Linked DNA regions of Homo sapiens. The protein of the gene in region 3 interacts with the protein of the main gene of each other region in a pairwise test. Each region holds a gene or a part of one and is shown on either strand. Other genes may lie near its edges.

Region 1 (7,028 bases), on a different chromosome or scaffold from region 3:
TTAGGTTAGTGGTTCTCACTTTGGTTGTATATAGCATTACCTGGGAGCTTCCAGAAATCCTGCAACTGGCTGGCTCACATCTTTTTTTTTTTTTTTTTTTTTTGGAGATGGAGCCTCGCTCTATTGCCTGGGCTGAAGTGCAGTGGCGCGATCTAGGCTCACTGCAAGCTCCGCCTCCTGCGTTCACGCCATTCTCCTGCCTCAGCCTCCTGAGTAGCTGGAACTACAGGCACTTGCCACCACGCCTGGCTAATTTTTTTTTTTTTTTTTTTTTTGTATTTTTAGTAGAGACGGGGTTTCACTTGATCTACAGATCAAGCCAGGATGGTCTTCATCTCCTGACCTTGTGATCCGCCTGCCTCAGCCCCCCAAAGTGCTGGGATCACAGGCGTGAGCCACCATGCCCAGCCTGGCACACGTCTTTAATCCCAGCACTTTGGGAGGCCAAGGTGGGAGAAATCGTTTGAGGCCAGGAGTTTGAGACCAGCCTGGGCAACATAGTGAGACCTCATCTCTATTTATCTTTTAATTAAGAAAAAGTCCTGAAACCACTTCAGAATCTCTAGGGTGAGGCCTGGGCATCAGTATCTTTTAAAATTCTCCAGGTCATTCTAATGTGTGTCACTGCCTTGGTGGGGAAATCAGTTTGGTGGGTCTTGACCAATTTTTAAATTCAAACAGAATAGCACAGAACGGCAAATACCAGAGTGCATCATATATAATAAGAATATTCTATTGGTTGGGCAGGCACAGTGGCTCACACCTATAATCCTAGCACTTTGGGAGGCAAGGGCAAGAGAGGATCACTTGGGCCCAGGAGTTCAAGACCAGCCTGGGCAACATAGACACCATCTCTACAAAATTAAAACATTATTTAAAAAAAAAAATTTTGTAAATAGGCCGGGCGCAGTGGCTCATGCCTATAATCCCAACACTTTGGGAGGCTGACAGACGGATCACCTGAGGTCAGGAGTTTGAGACCAGCCTGGCCAACATGTTGAAACCCTGTCTCTACTAAAAATACAAAGAAATTAGCTGGGCGTGGTGGCGGGCGCCTGTAATCCCAGCTACTAGGGAGGCTGAGGCAAGAGAATCGCTTGAACTTGAGAGGCGGAGATTTCAGTGAGCCGAGACCACACCATTGCACTCCAGCTTGGGCAACATAAGCGAAACTCCATCTCAAAAAATAATAATAATAATTTAAAAAGATATATTATATTGGTTGGCTGGGCTCGGTGGCTCATGCCTGTAATCTTAGCACTTTGGGAGGCTGAGGTGGAGGATTGCTTGAGGCCAGGAGTTTTTTTGTTTTGTTTTGGTTTTTTTGGTTTGTTTGTTTTTGTTTTTGTGAGACGGAGTCTAGCTCTGTCGCCCAGGCTGGAGTGCAGTGGTGCGATCTCGGCTCACTAAAACCTCTGATTCCAGGGATCAAGCTATTCCTCTGCCTCAGCCCCCTGAGTAGCTGGGATTACAGGAGCACACCACCACGCCTGGCTAACTTTTGTATTTTTAGTAGAGGTGGGGTTTTACCATGTTGGTCACCCTGGTCTCGAACTCCTGACCTCGTGATCTGCCCGCCTCAGCCTCCCAAAGTGGTGGGATTACAGGCGTGAGCCACTGCGCCCGGCAAGGCCAGGAGCTTAAGACCAACCCCGCTAACACAGTGAGACCATATCTAAAAAAAAAAAAAAAAAAAAAAACAAAAAAGAAAAGAAAAGAAAAAAGGAAAAGAGGCCAGGCATGGTGGCTCCCACCTGTAATTCCAGCACTTTGGGAGGCTGAGGTGGGTGGATCACTTGAGCTCAGGAGTTCGAGACCAGCCTGAGCAACATGGTGAAACCCCATCTCTTCAAAAAATACAAATATAAAAATTAGCTGGGCGTGGTGGTGCACACCAGTAGTCCCAGTTACTTGGGGGGCTGAGGTGGGAGAAACACTTGAGCCCAGGAGGTCAAGGCTGCAGTGAGCTGAGATGGTGCCACTGCACTCCAGCCTGGGTGACAAAGTGAGACCCTTCTCAAAAAAAAAAGGAAAAGGAAAAGAATATCATATTGGCCAAAAGAGACAGAAAACAAATTGGTGGTTGCTAGGGGTTGGGGGAAATGGAGAGTGACTGCTTAATAAATATGGGTACAAAGGTATAAGGTACAAAGCAGTATAAGCATGGCACCTCTGAGAGTAATGAAAACGTTCTGAGGCCGGGCGCAGTGGCTCACACCTGTAATCCCAGCACTTTGGGAGACCGAGGCGGGTGGATCACCTGAGGTCAGGAGTTCAAGCCAGCCTGGCCACGGTCAAATGCCGTTTCCACTAAAAATACGAAAATTAGCCGGGTGTGGTGGTGCATGCCTGTAATTCCAGCTACTCCAGAGGTTGAGGCAGGAGAATTGCTTGAACCCTGGAAGTGGAGCTTGCAATGAGCCAAGATCGCACCACTGCACTCCAGCCTGGGTAACAGAGCGAGACTCTGTCTCCAAAAAAAAGAAAAGAAAAAAAAAGAAAACATTCTGGAACAACACAGAAGTGGTGATTGCACAACCCTGTGAATGTACTGAATGCCACTGAATTGTACACTTTGAAAAGTCACGTAAATGTATGTTATGTGACTTTCATTTTAGTGCCAAGAAACGAAAGAATACTGGTGGTAGGAAAATGTGTGTTTGAGTTTTATATGTGGGTGGGATCTGCTACAGTCAGTCCTTGATTAACACATAAAATATATTTCCTCCTGTAGATTGCAGTCAGCAAAGTGTGAAAAAGCCTTGCCTTGCCTTGTTACATTTCACCTACTGAGGGCAAACTCTCTAGGACAGAGTCTCTGCTAAGCCCTGAGGTGAAGAAGACACACCCATTCATTTGAGCTCAGCCCAAAGATGGATAAGAAGAAAACTTTAAAAACAGCCCTCATCGATCAAGTCTTGACCATCAGGCCCCATTCTGAGCACTTTCGTGAATTAATGTATTTCTTCTTCTCAACATCTATAGAAGCAGGTGCTATTATTAGCCTCATTTTACAGATGAGCAAACTTAGGCTCAGGCACAGCAGGTGCAAAGTCCTGGAAAGACAAGAGAGCACTGTCTGAAGACATCATCCTTGATTCCTCTCTCTCTTTCAGATTACACATCCATTCCATCAGGAAATCACGTTGGCTCTGCCTTCCAAGTAGATCCAAGGTCTAACCACTTGTTCCCCACCTGTCCCACCCTGGAGCTGCCAAGGGCTGGGAGGGGATTTAGCATGAAGTATAGAAGGGAGAACTGGCAAGACATACACATCCCCCAGAGAAGGAGGGATGGGACCAAATCCTGCAGGGTTTTGAAAGCCTGTCAAGAAGTTTGGGGCCGGGTGCAGTGGCTCATGCCTATAATTCCAGCACTTTGGATGCTGAGGTGGGTGGATCACTTGAGGCCAGGAGTTTGTGAGCAGCTGGCCAACGTGGTGAAACCCTGTCTCTACTAAAAATATAAAAACTTTGCCAGGCGTTGGTGGCCCATGCCCATAGTCCCAGCTACTCAGGAGGCTGGGGCACCAGAATTGCTTGAACCTGGAAGCGGAGGTTGCGGTGAGCCGAAATCACGCCACTGCACTCCAGCCTGAGTGACAGAGACTCTATCTCAAAAAAAAACAAAAGTTTGGACCAAGCCTGGAGGAACAAGTAGTGCTGCCTGGAGGAAGGAGGTTGCCAGGGAAAAGAGGGTAGGAATGTTCCAAGCAGAGGCCCAGCATGAGCAAGGGCCCAGAGGAATGGGAAGAACTTCAGTGTGGCTGGAGTGGCCTGAGAGGTAGGGAGACCGACAAGTGGCTGAGGCCGGTAAGGCTGGGCTGGCAGGGGCCAGTCCCTGCAGAGGGTCAAACACCAGGCTGAGGAGTTCATTTGTGTCCTGGGGCCCTGAGATGCATGGATGGTTTTGAAAAAGGGAGCGACAGGAGCAGATATGTGTGTTAGAAAGACCCAGTGGCTGCATCAAAAGGAGACAGGATTGGCAGGGCACAGTGGCTCAGGCCTGTAATCCCAGCACTTTGGGAGGCCAAGGCGGGTGAATCACCTGAAGTCAGGAGTTCAAGACCAGCCTCACGAGCATGGCAAAACCCTGTCTGTATTAAAAATACAAAAATTGGCCGGGCGCAATGTCTCACGCCTGTCATCCCAGCACTTTGGGAGGCCGAGGCAGGTGGATCACGAGGTCAGGAGATCGAGACCATCCTGGCTAACATGGTGAAACCCCATCTCTACTAAAAATACAGAAAATTAGCCAGACGTGGTGGCACGCACCTGTAGTCCCAGCTACTCGGGAGGCTGAGGCAGAAGAATCACCTGAACCCAGGAGGCGGAGGTTGCAGTGAGCCGAGACTGCACCACTGCACTCCAGCCTGGGCAACAAAGCGAGACTCCATCTCCAAAAAAAAAAAAAAAATACAAAAATTAGCTGGTTGTGGCAGTACATGCCTGTAATCCCAGCTACTTGGGAGGCTGAGGCAGGAGACTCACTTGAACCCGGGAGGCGGAGGTCGCAGTGAGCCAAGATGGCGCCACTGCACTCTAGCCTGGGTGACAGAGTGAGCAGAGTGAGATTCTCTCTAAAATTAAAAAAAAAAAAAAAAAAAAAGGAAAGGCTCATGCCTGTAATCCCAGCACTTTGGGAGGCCGAGGCAGGAGGATCACGAGGTCAGGAGATCGAGACCATCCTGGCTAACACCGTGAAACCCCATCTCTACTAAAAAAAATACAAAAAATTAGCCGGGCATGGTGACGGGTGCCTGTAGTCCCAGCTACTCAGGAGGCTGAGGCAGGAGAATGGCATGAACCCAGGAGGCGGAGCTTGCAGTAAGCCAAGATCGCGCCACTGCACTCCAGCCTGGGTGACAGAGCGAGACTCTGTCTCAAAATAAAAAGACAGGAACCAAAAAAAAAAAAAAGAGAGAGGCCAAGACTGGAAGACAGAGAGTCTAGGGAGGACATGAACCCTATTCCCTTCTCAGCCACTCCTCTTCCCGCCCCCTTGTCCTGTCCTCCACCATCTTCCCTGGACTTTGCAGCAGCTTCCTCTCTGGTGTCCTGGTGACCTCCTCTGTCCCTCACAGCCCCTTCCCTTTATGCAGCCAGAGGAACTCTCTGCACCCCTGAATCTGATCCTGTCCTTCCTCTGTTCAGAAGCCTCCCATGGCTCCCACACAGGGTATAAGCCAGAGGCCTCCCCAGGGCCCACAGGCCCTAACTGATCTGCTTCCTCCAACCCCTGACCCCATCTCATGCTGTACCCACAAAACACACACAGGTCCTCCATGATGACCACACTGGCTGCTTTGGTCACCCTCACCGACACCAGGCATACCCCTCGCTAGAAGCGTTGCTGTGCTCTCCAGCAGTGCTCTTGCCCCAGATCCCCACAGGCCTCCCTATCTCCCTTCCTTCACTCAAATGTCATCTTCTCAGCGAGGCTTCCCTCCTCATCTTGTTTAAATGTACACTCTTGGCCAGGTGCGGTGGCTGACGCCTGTAATCCCAGCACTTTGGGAGGCTGAGGTGGGCGGATCACGAGGTCAAGAGATCGAGACCAACCTGGCCAACATGGTGAAATGTCTCTACTAAAAATACAAAAATTAGCTGGGCATGGTGGCACGCACCTATAGTCCCAGCTACTCGGGAGACTGAGGCAGGAGAATTGCTTGAACCCAGGAGGCAGAGGTTGCAGTGAGCCGAGATCGTGCCACTGCACTCTAGCATGGCGACAGAGTGAGACTCTGTCTCAAAAAAAAAAAAAAAAAAAAAGGCTGGGCGTGGTGGCTCCCGCCTGTAATCCCAGCACTTTGGGAGGCTGAGGCGGGCAGATCACCTGAGGTCGGGAGTTCCAGACCAGCCTGACCAACACGGAGAAACCCCGTCTCTACTAAAAATACAAAATTAGCTGGGTGTGGTGGCACATGCCTGTAATCCCAGCTACTCAGGAGACTGAGGCAGGAGAATTGCTTGAACCTAGGAGGCAGAGGTTGCGGTGAGCTGAGATCGCGCCATTGCACTCCAGCCTGGGCAACAAGAGTGAAACTCCATCTCAGAAAAAAAAAAAAGTACATTCTTGGCCGGGCGCAGTGGCTCACGCCTGTAATCTCAACATTTTAGTAGGCCAAGAGTGGGTGGATCACTTGAGGTCAGGAGTTTGATACCAGCCTGGCCAACATGATGAAACCCTGTGTCGGCCAGGTGCGGTGGCTCACACTGTAATCCCGGCACTTTGAGAGGCCGAGGCGGGCAGATCACAAGGTCAAGAGATCGAGACCAGCCTGGCCAATATGGTAAAACCCCATCTCTACTAAATACATAAAAATTAGCCAGGCGTGGTGGCGGGCGCCTGTAGTTCCAGCTACTCAGGAGGCTGAGGCAACTTGAACTCAGGAGGCAGAAGTTGCAGTGAACCAAGATCGTGCCACTGCACTCTAGCCTGGGCAACAGAGCAAGACTCCATCTCAAAAAAAAAAAAAAAAAAAAAAAGAAACCCTGTCTCTATAAAAATTAAAAAAAATTAGCCAGGCATGGTGGTAGTCGCCTGTAATCTCAGCTACTCGGGAGGCTGAGGCAGGAGAATCACTTGAACCCAGGAGGCGGAGGTTTCAGTGAGCCGAGATCACGCCACAGCACTCCATCCTGGGTAACAGAGCAATACCCCATCTCAAAGAAAAAAAAAAAAGTACACTCCTCCACCCTATCCACTCATCTGTGCCTGTTTTATTTTTCCCCATAGTTCTTACCTCCCTCACTACTACATACTTTACTTTTTTTTTTTTTTTTTTTTTTAAGAGTCTCGCTCTGTCACCCAGGCTGGAATGCAGTGGCGCATGGTCACAGCTCACTGCAGCCTCGAACACCTGGACTCAAGCCATCCTCCCACCTCAGCCTCCCAAGTAGCTGGGACTCCAGGTGCACACCACCACGCCTCGCTAATTTTAAAAAACTTTTTGTGGAGATAAGGTTGCTTTGTTGCCCAGCCTGGTCTCAAAGTGATCTTCCCATCTCACCCTGCCAAAGTGCTGG
Region 2 (7,028 bases), about 21 Mb from region 3:
ATGTGTGTATATATTTTTGAAGGCATAGCCTTATAATTTATAATGAAAAACAGCAGTCTTCTGTCCTATTTTTAAATTCTGTATCCCAGTGGCAATTATATTTCTAACTTGTGTATCAGTTGCTTCTGGAATTTACCCTCATATTCCTTTCTTAAAAAAAAATTTTTTTATAGAGATGGGGGTCTTGCTATATTGCCCAGCTGGTTTTGAACCCCTGGCCTCAAGTGATCCTCCTGTTTTGGCCTCCCAAAGTGCTGGAATTATAAGTGTGAGCCACTGCGCCTGGCCCTCATATTTCTAAATAAAGCAGTTTTAGACATTATCTATTGGTTTCCTATTATGGAAGCTGAGGATTTTTCTGTTTCATTCTTCTAATACTGTTGTGTTACAGTTTTTGTTTTAAATTATAAATATTGTTTACTGAGTCAAGAGTTACATTATGTTTAAAATTTTTCTTGTGTATTTTTTTAAACTTTGGAATTAATAATTGCTTCATTTATTGTTTGTTAGTTTTCTCTGTGTTTATCAATTCTTCCTACAGACCTTAGCAGATCTATGAGGGCCTCCTAATGCTGTTTTTTTTTTTAATTAAGCTAAACATGTACAGTTGTATTGATTTTTCATGAAGCCTGAGTATTCCACAAAATAAAGAGCATGTTACCTAATGGACTCAAGAAAAGTAAAAAAAAAAAAAAAAGCACTGGACCTCTCATAAGTTTTCAACTGTATGAAGATTTAAACTCCTGTCCAGTAAAGGTCAAAACTGCTTCTCGTTTTAAAGTTAGGTGTAAACAGTGTCTTCTGATGACTTCTAGAATGACCTAGAAAACCCCCTCATATTTGCTTCTTTCAGACACTGAAGTCCTAACGCTGTTTTCTCTGCGATCAAACTTATCAGATAATCCATCAGCCTCATTTTCTTCTGAAGGGCTCCCTCCTGGAAGCAACCCCTCTATCCCTCGTGTCCCCTATCCTCCTGCTCCATCTTTCATTTGGAGGCCAGCTGCATCTGTCTTCTTGGGGCATCTCTTTACCAGCAACCTGGATGTCCCCTTCACCTCTCCTCTGCTAGCATCTTATTTTCTCCTTAAGTTTGGTAGAGTGTATCTTTCAGTAGCATCCTGACAAAGGATTTCTAGAAGTTAGTTTTTTGAGATTTCTTGTATTGCTTGTCTATTGCTTTATAATTAATTACTCCAAAACTTAGTGGCTTAACACAACAATAAACATTTATTATTTTGCAGTCTCAGTGGCCAGGAATTTGGGAGCAACTTAGCTGGATGGTTCTGGCTCAGGGAATCCCAAGAAGTTGCAGTGAAGATATCAGCCAGGGATGCAGTCATCTCAAGGCTTGATTGGAGGCTGGAGGATCCGCTTCTAAGGTGACTCACTCGCAGGCTGGCAAGTTGTTGCTGGTTCTTGGTGAGAAGCCTTAGAGAACCCATGTGAGAACATGGGCCTCTCCACAGGCTGATTGAGTGTCCTCATAACCTGGTACCCAGGTTCTTCCAGACTTAGTGATCCAAGATAGCAAGACAGAGGTGACTGTTTTTATGGCCTAGATTTCTGCCAGATTTTGTTCACTAGAAGTCAGTTGCTATATCTTACCCATTTTTTTTTTTTTTTTGAGATGGAGCCTTGCTTAGTCACCCAGGCTGGAGTGCAGTGGTGCAATCTCGGATCACTGCAACCTCCACCTCTTGGGTTCAAGTGATTCTCCTGCCTCAGCCTGCCGAGTAGCTGGGATTACAGGTTCCTGCACCACGCCCGGCTTATTTTTTCCTTTTTTGTAGTAGAGACTGGGTTTCACCATGTTGGCCAGGCTGGTCTTGAACTTGTGACCTCAAGTGATCCGCCAGCCTCAGCCTCCCAAAGTGCTGGGAGTATAGGCGTGAGCCACCGTGCCTGGCCCATCCTACCCGTATTCAAGAAAGAGTATTAGTCTCTACCATTTGAAATTAGGAGTATCAAAGGATTATTGGACATGTTTTAAAACCACCACATCTTTCCTGTCTGAAAACATCTTGACGCTCACACTTAAGAGTATGGAATTCTAGATAGAAATCATGTTTCCTCAGAATTTTGAAGGCATTGTTCCATTATCTTCTAGCTTCCAGCGTTGCTTTTGTAAAGTCTCTTACCATTTTGATTCCTGATCCTTTGTACATGACCTGTTTTCTTCCTGAATACTTTTAGGATCTTCTCTTTATTCTTGTCTTGGTATTGTGGGATTGTGAGATGATGTGCTTTGATGTGGTCTTTTTTCGTTCATTGTGCTGGATACCCAGAGGAACTTTTGATTTTATGTATTTATTTATTTGAATTTTTTTTTAAAGAGACAGAGTCTCGCTCTATTGCCCAGGCTTGAGTACAGTGGTGCAATCATAGCTCATTGCAGCCTCCAACTCCTGGGCTCAAGTAATCCTCCTGCCTCAGTTGCCTGAGTAGCTGGGACTACAGGCCCACGCTGCCATGCTTAGCTAATTTTAAAAAATATTTTGTAGAGATGGGGTCTCACTGTGTTGCCTAAGCTGGTCTCAAACTCCTGGGCTCAAGTGATCCTCCTGCCTCCGTATCCCAAAGTGCTGGAATATAGGTGTGTGCCATTGTGCCTGACCAGATGAACTGTTTAATAAAAAAATTCGTATCTTCAGTTCTGGGAAATTTCTTATATATTGTTTCTTTAATATTTTCTTTTAGCTTTCATTTTATAAATTTAATCCTTTAGTCCATTTACTTTTATGTGTAATGTAAATTGTATAATGTAAAGCAAAAAATATTCAGGATATAGTTAAAATCATTTTTCTTTTTTTTTGAGACAGAGTCTTGCTCTGTCACCCAGGCTGTAGTGTAGTGGCATGATCTCGGCTTACTGCAACCTCCACCTTCTGGGCTCAAGCGATTCTAGTGCCTCAGCCTCCTGAGTAGCTGGGATTACAGGTGTCTACCACCATGTCTGGATAATTTTTTTGTATTTCTGGTAGAGTAGACAACGAGGTTTCACCATGTTGGCCAGGCTGGTTTTGAACTCCTGACCTCAAGTGATCCACCTGCCTCAGCCTCCCAAAGTGCTAGGATTACAGGCATGAGCCACCGTGGCTGGCCTAAACTCATTTTTCTCTTGTCATTTATTGTCAGATTCCCAGATGATTTAAAAAGTCACCTTTGTCATTTCCGCATAGCCAGAGTCTGTTTCTAAGTTTTAAAATTCTACTCTGCATTTTTTTTATTCCAGTGCAGTATGCTTAAAAAAAAAAAAAAAAAACTATTGTAGCGTTTTAATGGGTCACTCTCTGATAATAGCCTATGAAAATCTTCCAGGGCTCCAGTCCTGATAGAAGTTGAGAATTGTGAGGTATGTTAAGTCAGGGAACTGCCAAAGAGGAGTTGGTTCTGAATACAGGTCAGTGTGAGGTCGGTACAATAATGGAAGCTTGGGGCCACTTTCCTGGGGCTTTTTAAAGCTCTCCTGATGAGAAACAGCATAGGCGTCAGCCTGGGAAAGGGGTTATTAGTGAGCAGGATCAGTAAGTCTAGATGTGAAGACTAGAGGGATGTGGGATCTTGAGACCAAACCTATACTTATGAGTAGTATTTTTTTAAAAACCAAAGTAACTATTGAACATAGAAAACTCCACAGCCACCAAAGCAAGAGAGTTAGCCCCCTTCTTTTCCAGGTATCTTCTAGCTGTTCCATTAGGGCTTCATTTTCCATTCAGGGGAGGTTTTTGAGTGTCTTGAGAAGCTGGAGAAAAGGGAGAGAACTTTCCAAGAAAAAGAAAGAGAAATAAGAATGAGAATGGATTCATGGCAGTTTAAAGTATACTTCTGATATTTTTAGAGATGCCTTCAATGCTTCAAACATTTCAGTTTCATTGTGGCTTTTTAAAAAATAATAAAGAATGATTAGTGGATTTTTAAAAGAATTTCTGCTTGGCCTAATTTGTCAATAGGAAGAAAAGAGAATACACCAATTAAATGTTCATATCCTTAACAGCAAAAGGCTTATCACTCCAGCTCTGTATTTAGAGTCATCTTTGGTTGGGGAGATTGGATCTATTTATAGCTGCTACCACGGTCTTGTGGAGGGGAACTGCTCTCCCTTTTTCTCTGATATTTTCCGAGTTTTGCAGCACAATATAGATAAAGCTGGAATATTTCATAAGACTTTACTAAAGGCAAGGGAACAAGCAAAAGGAAGTAAGCAGAGAGAACAGCATGCAATGAAACCATGTTTGATATGAAATCTAGTTTTAGTTTTCAGCTTTGCTTTCTCCTTAGCACCTGGCTTGCCTCAAGTTTGTAAGCCATCTTTTCCCTGACACTCAGGAAACCCTTCAAGCATGTATAATTTCTAAATTTCAGACTCAAGAGAGAGGGCTTCATGATTGACACCAGGAATGCAGCCTACATGGGTGTGGCCTGTGTTTTCTACATGTAGTCATATCCAACTATATCCCAATAGCTTCCGCAAGACAGTCATATCTGCTATATCCAATTATCTAATATCCTTCACTAGAGGTAAACATGTGGCCATAGGTTTTTTTGTGTAATTGATCTTTATATATTATGTACATTTTATGGCTTTTTAAATTAGGGCTACAGTATTATATAATTAAAAACATGGACTAGAGCTAGTAGACCTGGGTTCTAGTCTATTTGCCAGTCTTGTATGTTGTAGCAATTCAATCTGTCTATGGTTTTGTAGAAAGATTTGGATATGATTAGTCTGTAATTTTATAATTTAGACTATAATTGAATTATTTTAAATAATCATAAAATTTGTACTTGAATCTTTCTCTTTGCCTATTTTAATATGATGCTGAGATATTAGTGAGGCATAATGACCCAATTATTATTCCTGTGAGAAAATATGATCCATTTTATAATGATATACTTTATAGGATAAGTTTTCCATGATGGTGACAGATGGGACCTACTTAAATTTAAAAGGGGCCATAGGGGTTTGCTATGAGTTTTTTATAAAGTAAATATTTACCTCTAAATGTACATCAGACATAATTTAGATGCTCTTATACAGAATGTAATTGCATGTAGTTAAATCTATATATAGATTCTATATTTTCTAGTTTTATTTCTTTCATGTATTTGACATTTCTTCTTTAGAATTTTTAATTGAATTGAAAAAGCAAACCAAAGCATCATATATTAAAGTACTTTAAGTTATTTGGTACTCTTAGTTAAGATACACCAATTTTTTTCTTTCTACTTAAGTATAATCTGTTTTTCTCCCCAGAGCGAAAAGCTGTTGCTATATGATACAGTCCAGAGTGAACTAGAGGAGAAGATAAGAAGGCTTGAAGAGGATAGGCACAGCATTGATATTACCTCAGGTAAGGAGAATGATATGATTGTGATGTTTGAGTGGCACCAGACCTTTGGTTTACTGTAGTGTCATATCGTATCTCAGTCTTCTAATATTAATATTATGTAAATGAAATGTCCCAGCAAAGGAGAAAAGGGGAAGAACTCTAAAGTGATGGTGATTATATTGTTATTGTTATTTGAATTCACACTTTAGAAAGATGTAAAAAATGGAGCACACGACAAGGGACGAAACAGAAGTATGACAGGAACCTACTGGCAGAATAGTGTCAGGGCTGGATGTGGTGCTGCACATCTATATCTACAGTCCCAGCTATGCAGGAGACTGAGGCGGAAGCATCCTTTGATCCCAGGAGTTCGAGATTGCAATTGCAGTGAGCCATGATGGCGCCACTGCACTCCAGACTGGGCAATCTTGTCTCCAAAAAAAAAAAGAATAGTATTGGAAATTAGCTATAGTATATGTTTTTCCTTGTAAGTCTTGAAAGACTGTTATGTGGAAGAAGGAATGAAAACCTTTTTGACATCATACAAGGTAGGACAAACTGATAGAAGTTATAGGGAGGTAGATTTTTGTTTCAGAAAAAGGAATAACTTATTAATGATTAGATCAGTCCAGTGTGAAATTGGCTTTTTCAGGGTGTTACAGAAAGGTTTTTTGCATTGAGTGGAAGGTCTACTAGGTTATCCTACAGTTCTTGAGTATATATTACTTTATCTGTTATAAAGTTTAGTTCTCTATAGGGTAGGCATGGTGGAGTCAGATAAGCTGAGCTCTAGTGCCAGTGCTCCCTCACCTACTAGTCTGGTGACCATGGACAGTTACTTCACTTTTCTAAATCAATCTCCTTGTCTGTAAAAGGAAAGTAATAAGAATACCTACCTCAGTGGTAGCTTTGGGGATTAGGTGAGACAATGCATGTAATATACATTTTACAAAGTGCATGACAATATGGTAATCAGTTCTTAGTCATGAAGTGCCAAATTGATTTTTGCTTTAATAAAGGCAGAGCAAAACTTAAACACGTAGTGCTCATGAAATTATGTACAGCTTAATCTATATATACCCAGCTGCCAATGAAGTTTTTTACGTTTTTACATGTAACTAAATAGCCACCATAAAATTAGAGTCTTTTTTCCTCCTTTGTTCACCAGAAACCCACTAATACTTAATCTTTATTTACCTGCCAGAGCTGTGGAATGATGAGCTTCAGTCAAGAAAAAAGAGGAAGGATCCTTTCAGTCCTGACAAAAAGAAGCCAGTTGTTGTTTCAGATATCCTTTTCCAAATTTTCTGTTTTTTTTTCCTTGATGTGCGTTTTTCCATTGTGCATGCCTTTATAACTTTTATTTGTAAACACTGACTTTATTTGCATGATCCTGTAATAAGCAAAAGATGATTTATTTATAAAACCGATTGAAGACAGAGGATATAGTGTATACTTTAGGTCAGGAGAGGTGGCAGAGGAGAAGAAATTCAATCATGATCTCAACTTTGAAAATTAATGTGACTTGTCGTTCACCAAGGGCTTTGATGTGAAACAGTCGTTTAGTATACAGTATGATTGTTTAATTCTCATGTGTACTTTTTTTTTCTTTTTGAGACAGGGTCTCACTGTGCCACCTAGGCTGGAGTGCAGTGGCACAATCATGGCTCACCTTAGCCTCAACCTCTCGGGCTC
Region 3 (7,028 bases):
AATAACCTGGAACTTATTCTATCGAGAAAAAAAAAAATGAAAGAAACTATGGAACTTTTTATATTACTAGTGTTCTGCTCGATAGTTTTAAAACATTATTTTTTAATTGACAAATATCTACTTTACTTTTTTTTTTTTTTTTGACACGGAGTCTTGCTGTGTCGCCCAGGCTGGAGTGCAGTGGCGTAATCTTGGCTCACTGCAACCTCCGTCTCCCAGGTTCAAGTGATTCTCCTGCTTCAGCCTCCTTAATGGCTGGGATTACAGGTGTCTGCCACCACGCCCAGCTAATTTTTGTGTTTTTAGTAGAGATGGGGTTTCACCACGTTGGCCAGGCTGGTCTCGAACTCCAGACCTCAGGTGATCAGCCCATCTCGGCCTCCCAAAGTGCTGCGATTACAGGAGTGAGTTACCACGCCCGGCTTACATTTCAATCATGTTATGTTAGGTCATTTCAACATGTGGTTTAAGAACAAGATTTGATCAATAATATAACAATCTGGATTAAAAGAACTCTTCACAGAAAATTCTAATGATAGTCAACATTTGATAATTTGCCCAAATATAATGAAGTTATTAATGTCTTCAGTTTTAACAGAAGTATTTAACAAAAATACTCACCCTCCTGTGCCAATGGATCTCTTTTGATGGTTTTTCGAATCATAATAGCGCTGTAGGATCATAGCACTTCTGCTTTTCAAATATCCAGTCTCCACCTCAATATAGTTCTCCAAATAGGAAATGAAAATGGATTTGATAAGCTTAGACAAGAAAGTCTGTTTATCAGTACCTAAATTAAACTCCATCAGCTTGCTGGAAAGATTGGTGGTTCTTTTCATGAAAAAGGGGGAGAAAAAGATTAATATACATTTTAGGTATAGTAACAATATTAAGGAATACAAATTTTTACAACGTGACTTTCATGACTTATGTTAAGCCACCATTTCTTAAACTCTGGGAGAGTACTTATGATGCAGAGATCAACTCTACAGGGTTACATATAAATACAGTGAAATATTACGAACAACTTTACGGTTTTGAGAACTGTTATAAATTCCTAGGAAAAGAACTTGTGAGGCAATTAACTAGTCCAGAAATGGCGACAGTGGCAGATTGGCCTCAAGTATGTCTAATGCCATTCATCACATGGGACCCAAAACAGAGTACTGAAAGATCTACTGTCTGTTCACCCTCTTTTGTTTTGTCCTTGTGGACTTTCCCTCTAATTTTCTATTTCCCATTGCTGAAGATAGGGTCATAACAGTGTTGTTGTTGAGATGGACTTCCTCATTACGGTAACTTTGGAAAAACCTTCTCCCAAAATGAAGACACTGAAGAAGAGTAATAGGGTTGGGAAAAGTCAAGGAAAAAAAAAACCCCACAAGACTCCATATGAAGCTTCTGAGACAATCTCTAAGAGTAACACTGACATTTACAAAAGCACAAGACAAATTCCTACAGAAGATTTAGAGCTGAAATTGTCATTTGTTAAGATTACATCACTTCCTTTTGCAGTTTCTAAAGTTTTGACTGCAGATAAATGTAATTACACTAATGCTTAGAGAAAAAATAAAGCATAACATCCAATTCCTGACGTTAATGTATTAAGAATGTTGTACAATACAGTCTTGTACAATATAACTAGTCTATACAGCTAAGCATTTAATGCTAAAAGGTAAACTGGTGACAAACTTATTCAAAAATACCTGAATACTTCCTTGTTTTTATCAAAAAAATTTAAAAAATCTGTTATCTATTATTTTCTAATCATTAAAAATTTACCTTGTATACAGATCATAGAGATTTTTGAGATATTGCTCTGCATCGGACTTCCTACATTCTTCTAACTGCTCTTTCACAAAACTCTAAAAGAAAAAGGTTAACATTCTGTTAATTAGGTAAATATTAAATTCTACAACTTCTCAAGATATTTTTCTTTTAAAATTCACTCCACAGTTTTGAACCTTTCTGACTTACAATCCAATCAAAAAGGCAATTACAGAAAACAAACCAATCATAAAATATTTTAAAACAGGTTTTTACATTTTACCACTTCTCATATTTACCTGTAGAGGATCTTTATCAGTCTTAGGAATAATACCTTTTCTGTTAAATTGGCCTATTCTGCTCTGTGAGGTGCATCAAAAAAACAAAACTGAGAGTACAAACAATAGAGTCAATTCCTTAAGGCAGCATCTCCCAAACTGAGTTCCAGGTAACACTAGTGTTCCTTCAGATGTCTATAGGCATTACTCCAAAACAGGGTTTCTTAGACAGTAAATGTGTGAAATGCTGTACATTACATCCCCACTTCTAGAGAATGACAATACTATCAAAATTCCTGAATTGTGTTAAAAAAAAAAAAAAGCAAACATTTATTGAATGTTGTTTAATCCAGTTGTAAACAGCTTAGGAAATGTTATCTGAAAGTACAGTGATATGGGGGTAAATTAAATTTCTGTGTTTTCCCTTTTCAGGTTAGTACCATATTATTAAAAATTCTACAGACTGCTCTTGTAATTCTTGTTCAGTTTCACAAATGACATCTATTGGTGAAGGCAGGGACCAAAAAAAAAGAAAAATCTTCAAGGCTATCTTACCACAATATATTATACTACTACTACGAATACTACACAAATTTCAAGCATGTTCTCTGATGATACTTATTGATTAGCACTTTCTTCTTGGTGAATACAAAACATTTTTTAAAAAGCATGAGGATTCCTTTCTCCTTAACTAGATTACTATTTCTAAGGTCATTACATAAGTAAACTAAATTTTAAAAATACTTTTAAAATATAGGGAAAAAATTACATATTGCTTTAAGAACTATTTAATTTGTTACTATTTAAAATTACCTGTAGTTTGATTTCAAATACATTTTGAATAAGTTTAGCCAGGACTGTTTCTGGATTACTGAAGATATCTCCAACTTGTTTGTTCACTCTTTGACAGAGTATTCCAGCGTCTTCAAATATATCATTTCTCAAATAAGCACCCTAAACAGCAGAGACATTTTATACAGTGAACATATAATTTCTACATGATTTTAAAACAACAATTAGCATAAAATAATATCCAACAAAGTGTACTGTTATGTTACCTCCTGGCACTGCTTTATATAAACATCAACACAATGGGAATAACCCTACAAGGAAGAAACACATTGTTATTATTCTGATTCAATTATAATAATTATTATTTCAAAAAAAGAAGTGTTATATGTCATAAAGCTATGACTATTTACCAGTAAATGGCCAATAGCAACACCTGTTGGACTTAAATAAAATTAACTGCAGAAAACCAGTAACTTGATAAAGGTATCGTCTCCCTAGTCACTTTCTATGATAAAATTTATCAGTTGGTACATATCCTTGTTGAACTTTAGACTAAAACAAGAAAGATGAAGTATGTAACTGAGTTCTTTAGAGTAATTTTTGTCCTATGATCATCTAGCCATCTCCTTCAACTCCAAAACACACCCACTCACACCCACCCACACACATACACACAAACACACACATACACAGAGAGTCAAGGTCTTGGGAAAAGGTTTTACATATATATATGTATGTGTTTTATATACATATAAATATATTTATATATATTAAAGTGTGTATATATACGTGTGTGTGTGTGTGTGTGTGTGTGTGTATATATATATATATGTGTATATATATATTTCTTTTTTTTTTTTTGAGACAGGATTTCACTCCTGTCACCCAGGCTGGAATGCAATGGTGTCATCTTGGCTAACTACAACCTCTGCCTCCCAGGCTCATGCGATCCTCCTGCTGTAGCCTCCCGAGTAGCTGGGACTACAGGCACATGCCTCCCCTCCGGCTAATTTTTGTATTTTCTGTAGAGACAGGGTCTCACCATGTTGCCTAAGCTGATCTCGAACTCCTGAGCTAAACTGATCCACCCGCCTCGGCCTCCCAAAATACTAGGATTACAGGAGTGAGCCATTGCGCCTGGCCTTCTCTAGCATTTGGTTTTCCTTGCAAGAATCTGGACAGTTGTATTCAGCTGGTAGTTTGGAAATTTACTTTTTAAACTAAATGTATTTTAATAAAATGTGTTTAAAACAAACTGATTTGTCATTAAGCTCACCATAATGAGATTTTTGCCTATTAATAAATCATACATAAAAACCAGTAAGGAAAGCAATATAAAGTGCACTACTGTCTCAAGAGCCATTCTCAATACTCATTCAGATTTTACCAAAATGAAAAGTCCAACAAATAGCTTCCCCTTCCCTAATCTGATACAAATCAAAGAAACAGATTGAAGGAAGAACCATTTCTTTAAGCACTTTCTTTGCAGAAATATACTCCTACACAGGGATTCTCTCCCGAGTTCAAATTCTAGGTAAACAATTCCGTAATACAAAATTCTTTTGTATTACCTCCTGAGGTCCCCTGGATTTAAGTCTCTTACTAGTCATGTTCCATCTACTCTCTGGTTCCTATATCCTACAGATATTTACGGTCACGTTTTCTTTCTTTTCACCTATATTATAATATGTGGAAGCAAAAAGGCAGACAATATGATTTTCTTTATCAAAGTATAAAAATTCATCAATATTTAATTGATCAATTAATTTTAATTCAATATTAATATTATTGAATATAAAACCTTAAATATTAAATATATAACATTCAATACCATTTACAGAGTATCAAATGTACAAATTACTCAAAACAGTGAAAATTATCACTGTGATAGTTACATAATGAATGGGGGAAATCAGAGACTATAATATATAGAACTTACGTAATTTCCATAGCCTTGAACACTATTCATTTTTAATTCCTACTATTTACCTTAAAATGAAGTAAAACTGCTGCTACTTCTCTCATTCTGGAGATTTCACCTCTTCTTTGAGCACTGGTAAACTCCTGAATCAGCTGGCATTCTAAATCATGGTATTTACCTAAAAATAAAGTCATTCAGCTACACTGAGGCATACAAGGCATCCACGTTATTTAAGAGTATCTACATTATTTACAAATATAATGACTATGAATATAGCTTTCTTTTGAAGGAATTACAAAAACAAATGAGATTATAGGCCGTGAACCCAGCCCCTGTAATATACTGTGGCATATAAATCTATATTTTCAAGACAAAAAACTTCCAAACTGGCAAAATTACTGAGCTTTCCAGGGTCTGACTGTCATATGCCATTGTTACTTAAACCAGTAGCTGACTGGAAAAAATCCTCCAGATGCTATTTCTGATAGCAACACACATGAAAAATCCTACACATGGAAAGGGTGAAGAGGACTACAGAACTCTTTACTAGAGTTCTGATGCCTCTACCTAGAACAATAGTGGACTGATGACTGAACACCAAATCTCATCCTGATAATATGCAGTATTTATATTTTTTTCATTTTCTTTTTTTTTTTTTTTTCGAGACAGAGTTTCTCTGTGTCACCCAGTCAAAGTGCAGTGGCGCGATCTCGGCTCACTGCAACCTCCACCTGCTGGGTTCAAGCGATTCTCCTGCCTCAGCCTCCTGAGTAGCTAGGATTATAGACACCCATTACCACACCCAGCTAATTTTTGTATTTTTAATAGAGACGGGGTTTCACTATGTTGGCCAAGCTGGTCTCGAACTCCTGACCTCAGGTGATCCACCCGCCTCGGCCTCCCAAAGTGCTGGGATTACAGGTGCGAACCACCATGTCCGGCCCTATTCACTATATTCTTGAGGCTAGTATGGTTCTTAACGAACACCTGAACTTCAGACCAATCTATTGTGATCAAAAATATTCCCAGGAAGTCTAACTAGCTGTGTCATCCTTATTCTAAGACTTTTTGGGAATATAGATGAATCTTTGAATCTTCTATGCAGTGGCCTACTCTAAATAGTGACCCCAGCTACCACAGAACCTGCAAATTTAGTGGTCTTTTCAAAAACCTAGAATGATCTAACCTAAACTAAAATCCAAGACTGGCAAGAACCAAACTAATCATGTAAGGAGTTAAATAGATACTGAAATGCTTATATAATCTTAAAAAAAAAAAGAGAGAATCTTATTCAGAGATAGATGTATGGAAAGCACAGGATTTCCAAAATGCACTATTAAATTAAAAATGCAAGGTATAAAGCTATTTATATAGTATGGTAGCAATTATTTAAAAATAAATGAGGATAGAAGTACATATAAATATCTATACATACACATACATATGTACACACACACATATATAGAATTTATGTCTTATGCTTGTATATCCATAGATTATTCTGCAAGAATATCCAAAAAAACTGGTAATGGTTGTTTTGAGGGAAGAGAAATCAAACTCAGGGATCTTCTATGCAGTAGCCTACTAGGGTAGGAAGATGACATTGTTCCTGCTTTTTCTCCTTTTGCTGTTTTATTTTTACACAAGTAGTTTTTTTACTTATTAAAAAAAAGGTAAAATAAATACATCACTTACTTGCAATTTTGGATTTAACTTCTGAAAATCTGAAAGACAAAAACCAACCATGAGGTTTGTTAGTTGTGATAAACATCCTATGGCAATGTAAGATGCTAACCAAATGGGAAACTGGGTGCAGGAGATACGAGAACCATCTGTACTATCTTTGCAACTTTTCTGTAAATCCAAAACCATTATAAAGTTAAAAGGTTATTGTAAAAAGAAAAAAGACAAAATCAGAGGAGAGAATTCTGATAGGAAGCATGCCAGGTGATAAAACTTAATGTAGGTAGGTAGCTGGTTCTCATTTAGGAAATTCACATTGAAAATCAATTCTCTTTTTAAAGAATCAACTGCTCTGCATAAGACACTAACAACCCAGCCAGTCCCAAAACTGACTTACTGTTCTTACTTTTATTTGCTGGCATTTTAAATACACTTGATTATTTGTCTCCCTCCCCATTCCCATGGTTGGTATTTTTAAAAATAAAGTTCCATCATTATTATTCAAAAGAAAAAGATGATCAAATAATATATTATATGATGATATATTAATGACAAATGATAAGACCCAGCAATGTGCCTAGCAGAGT
Region 4 (7,028 bases), on a different chromosome or scaffold from region 3:
CACCTGGAATTTAGTGAATGATATAATATAAAAATCTATATTTTTAAAGTTAAAAATTAGTATATAAGAAAATAATGAGGTGGCCTTGAAATCTCTCAACTCTATAAACATAAACGCTTGTTTTTTCTCACTTAAAAAAAAGCTAAAATTTGTACATATTTACAGACTAAATTTCTTGTAACCACAAAGACTACTCTTAAAAAGCTCAAGTTGTATGGAGAATATATACTGTGAATATAGACGAGGAAATCTTAAAAGGAGAAAGAGGATTAGCTGAAAAACAAAGAATCAGGAAGTCTTCAATGGATGTTTATGCTTAAAAAATAATTAAAAGATCAAAACTTTTGCAAACTGAAAAAAAATGTTTATTTAATGACATGGGGAATACAAGCATTGAAAAAAGTAGGATGGAAAGCTTTCTCTATAATTCTGTCCCTCTCTCTAACTGGAAAATAACATACACAAAAAGGTTACTTTTATAAGCAAAGAAAATAGACAGTTTTAAAATGATCAAATTATATTCTTCATGAAGCCTAAATTCCTCCTGACAGGCCACTGAATCCATCAGTGTCCATTAATCTGATCAAGCCAGCACAGAATGATACATTGTCCTCCCTCATTGGTTCATTTGTGTCTCTCCCAAAGCCACCCACTTTCAAAAAGATGACCTTGCCAGACAAAGAACTATTGTTGAAGCATAAATTAATCAGTTGGCTTTCTCTGCAACCCCCAGTATCTAACTATTGAATATGGGTCAAGAAAATTCTGCTAACAAACATTCTCTCTTGTCAGCCAGAGGAAAAGAGTCAAGGAGACTGAAAGTGGAGGAGGTAAAGCTCTACCCATTTATCACTGGATGTCCTTATCAACCGATACTGCACAGGCCACATTCACAGTATGTGTGATATCTATTAGTTAAGAAGGTGAATCTCACTGAGATTCAAAATAAATAGAGGATGTAGAAATCAGATGATTTATTTGTTACTGACATTCCAACGAATGTGGGGGTATATTATCAGGTTTAAATTAATGTGTAATTGATTTTGTATGAGACTGTGACCCACCTAATTTTTCCATTACAGGAATAAATAGCTAATTAGAATCTTAGATAGGCTGTTTGCCAATGTGCTTCCCTCATGTGACTGGGAAATAACTTCAAGGCTACCTCTTTTACCTACCCCTGTGCTGGGCCTCTCCAGACATGGCATAAGCTTTGGCCAGTAACGCACTCATTTCTGCAGTTTTGGGGCTGACTTCAGTGAACAAAGAAACACAGACAGAATGAGCCTGGAATAAAGAAAATCATGACAAGGTAAGCACCCAATGACAGTGTTCACTGTGGATTTAGATGAGAGGTGAGTTTGAGTCCCAGCTCTGCCACTTCCTAGCTATGAGTCTTGTGCAAGTAATTTCACCTTCATTCGTAGAAGGAATATATAATTCCCACTGATTAGGGTTTGGGAAGGATTAAGTGAGATGGTATATGCAAAGCACAGGGCACGGTGCTCATCACGTGGTAAGTTCTCAATAAATGTTGGCTAGTATAATTTTTATTAGATTTCATAGCAAAAATAAAGTCATAACCTTAGCTCAGTCTCACTGGACTGAACTCCAGTCTTGAAGGCAGTCTTGTAAATGTAAATCAGGGATAATAAGAATAGTATTTGTTATAAAAAGTTGTTGTAAATATTAAATAAATTAATGGTTAATATATGTAAAGTGGTTAGAACACCACCCAGCATATAGTAAGCACTAAAAAAGTGTTAGATTTTATATTATTTGTGCTAAAATGGAAGGAGTAACACTTAGAAAAGAGAAAGAGAAAAACATTGAGTCCACACCCACCAGCCACAAAAGAACCACCTGTGCTTAATATTTCATAGGCCAAATACTGTGAGGTGTTTCAAAGAGCTGAGGGGTTATCAGAGAAGACTTTGGAGCCAAGACACAGAGCAGAGTTGTTATGAATACAGGCTGTAGGGTCAGATGTGGAGTTCAAATCCCTGCTTTACTATTTCTTAGCTATACAATGTCAGCTGAGTTAGCTATAACTCTGTGCGTCAGTTTTCTCATCCTTAAAATGAGATAAAATAATAATGGTACCTACTTCATAGAGCTATTGTACAGATTAAATGAATCGATATATCCTCTAGGGAACGTAGAAAAAGCATTCCATACATTTTAACTCTTATCTTTTGGTGCTTTTGGGAAACACTGCTATTTATTGTTTTATTCATTCTGATCTGACCACTGCTTTGAGAAAGTCTTGAACACAAAAACCAGACTGGCTTTCTCTGTAAGCAGTGGACTCCCTGCCTTCACAGCAGCATTCTCTGACATCTCTCCACTGTGTGATGTTTATAATTGTGGACTGTCAGATTGTTTGCAATGCCTTTTCTTCAGAGTCTGTTTTCATGTATACTGTTAGATTGCATTGCACCTTTTCTATGATACAGGATATCCAGTATTTTGATGTTTGTCACTGTGGGAGATACCTGAAGCCACAGGCAGCATTCTCCTTCGGAGAGAGAAAAGGTGAATTTAGCAGCTTCAAGTACATGATACATAAAAGTACCCTAATATAATAGACTCACCATTCCTTCCTATGTTTTGTTTTGTTTTCCCCCGGGCATTTGTCAAGTTAGTTACCTCCAAGTGAAACACCCTTTTGTTAGTTTAACCTTAGGTTTGGAAATATAATCAGCTAGACTAGTTTAAAGTACAAATGACAGCATTACCCTAAAATACCATGATTTTTCATTTAAAAAGGCCTTTTGTTTTTGCTGAAGATTTAAGTTCGGTTGTCCCTGTATCTTTTTTCCTTGGAGTAGACTCACATTTTGCTTCTTTTTTACAGCACCAACAGAGATAAGAGGGGGAGGGGGAAGTGCTGTCTGCACAGCCAATGACACAGCACATTCGCCCACCTGAGTCAGTGTTCTCTGGCCTGGTCATTTAAGGTTTGATCAAGGGCTCTTAGGTGGATCTGGAGGAAAGTCAGGGTTAAAACAGAATCAATTCCAGCCCTTGTTCTTCTGAGAAGCCCATGCTTCCCTGGCCCTGAGAACCAAGCCTGGGGCCAAACAAGGCAACCCAGCCTGGGCTCTGGCCAACCCACTGACCTGCTGCAAGTACTGGATGGCCTGGTTGTGGTTCCTCCTCAGCTGCTCTATCTGAGCAGCTTCCTCGTACAGGCTGATCAGATCTGACGTCCTATCACCCTTGGCAGCAATAACATCGCCAATTGCCTTTTCAAAGTATGCCAGAGCTAGGTTCAGTCTGTGGATGGCCAAGGAGGCTCTGCAAGAAAAGGGATGAAAATAGAAAGTCACAGAGAGGCCACTTACTTTGCAGACACAAAAGGAACTGATTCCAAGAATTAAAGAATTTGGCCTTCACAGGCCCATCATCTTGGTAGCTGGCTCAAAAATCTAGCCTTGCTGTAAATAAACTCCAATTATCCTGCATTTTACCCATCAGATTTCATTGACGACCACTCATTAAACCCATTACTATGTCGTGCTGTTGTCTAATTTTTTTTAAAAAGCAAATGGAAAAATGGCTTCCAGGAATTCACAAGATGGGATAATTCACCCATAAACATAGACTTTCTAAAATCAAAATAAAATTTTATTACCTCTGATTCCCTCTCTTTCAGGCCAAAGAAAGTTTTTGCTTTGTTTTGTTCCATTTAATTTGGCGAATTCCTCCTCAGTTAAAAATGAGGATAGAAAAAAAAATGTAAATATTCCCCCAAGAGAGTGATTAAATAAATTATAGCATATCATACAATAAAATACCTTAGAGACATTAAAAGTCATGTTTTCTTTTTAGACAGATATGGGAAGATATTAAAAATGTGCTAAAAGGAAAAAGATATAAAGCTGCACTTAGACTGTGATCCACATAGAGATATAGTTATTGATATCCATATATATCTGTTCAAAATGTTCATAGCAGTTACGTCTGTGTGGTGGTATCACAATCGGCTTATTCGTTCTTCATACCTGTCTGTATTTTCAAAATTTTCCACAACAAAGTTGGGAATATAATTTTTTTAAATGAGGATAAAACAATATCTCATTGAGGTTTATCTTTCCAGAGACAGCAAGGTAAAATGAGATCATGGGTAGTTCAAAGCTGGTTCTGGTAATTATGAGCTTTCTCAAACTCTATAAGCCTACATTTCCTTCTAAATAAAACAATTGAGTTTATACTGCAAGTTTGTTGTGAAGAATAATATTAAGTATAAAATCACCTAACATATAGTAGATATACAATCAATATTCCTTCCTCCTGACTCCAATATTTGTATTCCTAAGTTGAATTAAAAATATATGTGTAAGCCAGGTGTGGTGGTGTCTTGCCTGTGGTCTCAGCTACTGAGGAGGCTGAGCCCAGGAGTTCAAGGTTTCAGTGAGTTCTGATTGCACCCTGCACTCCAGCCTGAGTGGCAGAATGAAAAACTATCTAAATGAAAATAATAGAAATACCTACCCTCATTGGCTGTCATGTGGACTAAGTAAAATAAATTATGTAAAGCACTTAGAACAGTGTCTAGTATGTAGTTATACTTAGTAGGCACTCTAACACTTAGAACAGGACATGCATAAAAAAGGTATTCAATAAATACTGGAGAATGGATGAACAAAATGAGCACCAGAGTTTTTCTGAAAAAAGAATAAGACTATCTTTCACATAAGGCAGAAAAACTTTAGGCCCTATGTGACAGGAGTAGACATTCACCAGACTGTAATTTATTGCCCTGTGGACTTAAGTCAATAGTTTGATTTAGTTCTGGACATTCCAACATCTCCCCATTTCCCATCTGACTTCTAGATTCATGGTTGTTTAGAGGACGCAGACATGACGCATGTATTTCATTTACTTACTATTCAGTCATATACCCTACTGTGCCAAGTGCTTACAGTTTTGGAAACAGATTGCTTTCAAGGATGTAAAGATATTTGAAAAATCTAGGGAACAGTAAACTCTTTATTCTTTTTCTTCTAATAATCTGATGGGCCCACATTCATTTCTAAATATTCTGATTCTCAGAGGATCCCTAAGTCAACAGCAAGACAGTTAAATCTTGTTCTGGCTTAAACCAATTCCATGAACTTTGTTTTCATATGGAACAGAACTTTCCTTAAAAATGTACATGCTGTGCATGGCTTTCACAGCTTCCAGTTAATTGTCTTCATTAAGTGTTCCTTCATCTAAAATGTCACATGTCATGACAAAAATAGGTGGCAATTCAGAGAAAAATACAATATTAGAGTGAGTGTGAGAGGCAAGTATAAGGAAGACTAAGAGTTAGTGAGTTCAGATCACAGATCCAATATTTACAAGCTATGTTATCTTGGACAATTTGTTTAACCTCAGCTTCAGTCTCCTTGACCACCCCCCTTTAATAAAATAATAATCATACCAACTACCTCAATGGCTGTTGTGAGGATTAAATGGGGCAGTACACAAAATGCCCAGTGTATCCATTTGGTAAATATGAGCCTCTTTTATTATCATTTGAGTTTCTGGGTTTTTTTGCTCTAAATATTTTTCTCCCTTATATCATGTAATTCCAAGCCTCATTCATAAAAGCCTCAGCTTCTCCAAGCCCAGATCTTACCTGCCCAAAGCAAGTGTTAGGTCGTTCTCAGAGACTTGTAATTCACAAACACCTCCTTTATATAATTCTTTCAGCTCCTTCATGTTTCTCTCTGCCTTCTGCAGGTTGAAATAGGCTTCTCTGCCAGTGAAATAGTCAAGGAAAATGGCAAGCACTCAAACTAACATCCACTGCACAGGGACAGCAGGTGATAAGGAAACAAAAGGGGCTCTTGGAAAAGTGAAGCAATATTAAAAATGGGTACTTAACTATGTTCTTTATTTTCCATGTATTATGTTGTCAAGAAGCAAGAATTCTTTAGAAAAGGAACAGGGGCTTGGGTTTCCTGTGGTGGTTGCCTGAATCCAAGACTAGAGTAGGTAGGCAGTGTTTGCAGGAGTGAGCGGAAACTGTAAATTACACTCGATTTCCTTTAGAGGCATCTACTGCATGACAATAGTTATTCATTTTTCCCAAGCCTGTTCCTGTGAATGGTAAAAGAGAGGAACTAATTACGCTGAAAGGAACTTTCTGGGTCATTTAGAAAGTCCAAGCAAAGCAGGTTTTGGGCCAAAGGCAAACAGCAGAAAAGCAAAAATCCCCTTAATTCCCAAACATTCTTCTATTTCCCACATTTTCAATAGCCCCCTGCTAAGGGTATAACAGAGGAAGGCCACATATCAGATTTTGCAAGTTGAACATTAGGACCAAAAAAGTAGAGAGGGGGATGTGTAGAGAGGAGACTGGGGACACATAGGCTCAAAGAGTGCTCATGATGATGCGTGAACATCAAATGCCCTTAACATCTTTCCAGTGGAGATGGTACAACAGGCTGTCAGAATCCCCAGTTCTGAGGAAAGGCACATATAACAGTACCCCTCTGGGGATTTATAGAACTACTTGTTTTGTCTATTTTGCTTGGCCTCCAGCCTCATGGGCAGTATCCACAAGAGCATTTCAAAAAACTAAAATGATCGAGAATCAGTTAAATCAGTGGTTTTGGGCTGCAAATTACAATCTCTGGAGGGCTTTTAAAAATTTCAATGAACAGATGTACCTCAGAGCCTCTCAGTCAAAATCTTTGGGGCAGGAACAGACAGCAGAAATTCTTAAAGCTCCCCAGGGGATTACAATGTGCAGCCTAGTTTGCCAAATTGTGCTTTAAATTATCACCCATTCTCTCCATCACTACACCACCACCACCACCACCACCCTCATCCTCATTGCTAACACTGATTTTCTTGGGTGCTCAATGAAGAGCAGAACAGACTCAGAAAACCTTCAGCTGGCTAGGTAATATGTGACTAGTGAAATCTCTTCCGTGGCTCAACTCAGAGCTTATATGAATAGACATAGGAAGAGAATACACACCCTTCTAGATGGAGAGGAGAGGCTCATGGAGGGCCTTGATGTTGGAACA

Evidence for each region.
Region 1: the proteins of EXOC5 (region 3) and RAB4B interact in binary tests that used the Homo sapiens proteins (3 or more experiments, as listed by UniProt).
Region 2: the proteins of EXOC5 (region 3) and BRMS1L interact in binary tests that used the Homo sapiens proteins (3 or more experiments, as listed by UniProt).
Region 4: the proteins of EXOC5 (region 3) and TTC23L interact in binary tests that used the Homo sapiens proteins (3 or more experiments, as listed by UniProt).

What each region holds. Positions count from the first base shown.
Region 1 is NC_000019.10:40,788,245-40,795,272, reverse strand, and holds part of RAB4B (ras-related protein Rab-4B), read right to left. Parts: intron 1-7,028. UniProt on the Homo sapiens protein: The small GTPases Rab are key regulators of intracellular membrane trafficking, from the formation of transport vesicles to their fusion with membranes.
Region 2 is NC_000014.9:35,857,333-35,864,360, forward strand, and holds part of BRMS1L (breast cancer metastasis-suppressor 1-like protein), read left to right. Parts: intron 1-5,257; coding exon 5,258-5,354; intron 5,355-6,537; coding exon 6,538-6,621; intron 6,622-7,028. UniProt on the Homo sapiens protein: Involved in the histone deacetylase (HDAC1)-dependent transcriptional repression activity. When overexpressed in lung cancer cell line that lacks p53/TP53 expression, inhibits cell growth.
Region 3 is NC_000014.9:57,230,885-57,237,912, forward strand, and holds part of EXOC5 (exocyst complex component 5), read right to left. Parts: intron 6,483-7,028; coding exon 6,454-6,482; intron 4,937-6,453; coding exon 4,827-4,936; intron 3,149-4,826; coding exon 3,104-3,148; intron 3,000-3,103; coding exon 2,859-2,999; intron 1,866-2,858; coding exon 1,783-1,865; intron 832-1,782; coding exon 622-831; intron 1-621. UniProt on the Homo sapiens protein: Component of the exocyst complex involved in the docking of exocytic vesicles with fusion sites on the plasma membrane.
Region 4 is NC_000005.10:34,863,164-34,870,191, reverse strand, and holds part of TTC23L (tetratricopeptide repeat protein 23-like), read right to left. Parts: intron 5,756-7,028; coding exon 5,630-5,755; intron 3,301-5,629; coding exon 3,123-3,300; intron 2,987-3,122; coding exon of another isoform or gene 2,933-2,986; exon of another isoform or gene 1,288-2,932; coding exon 1,179-1,287; exon of another isoform or gene 343-1,178; intron 1-342.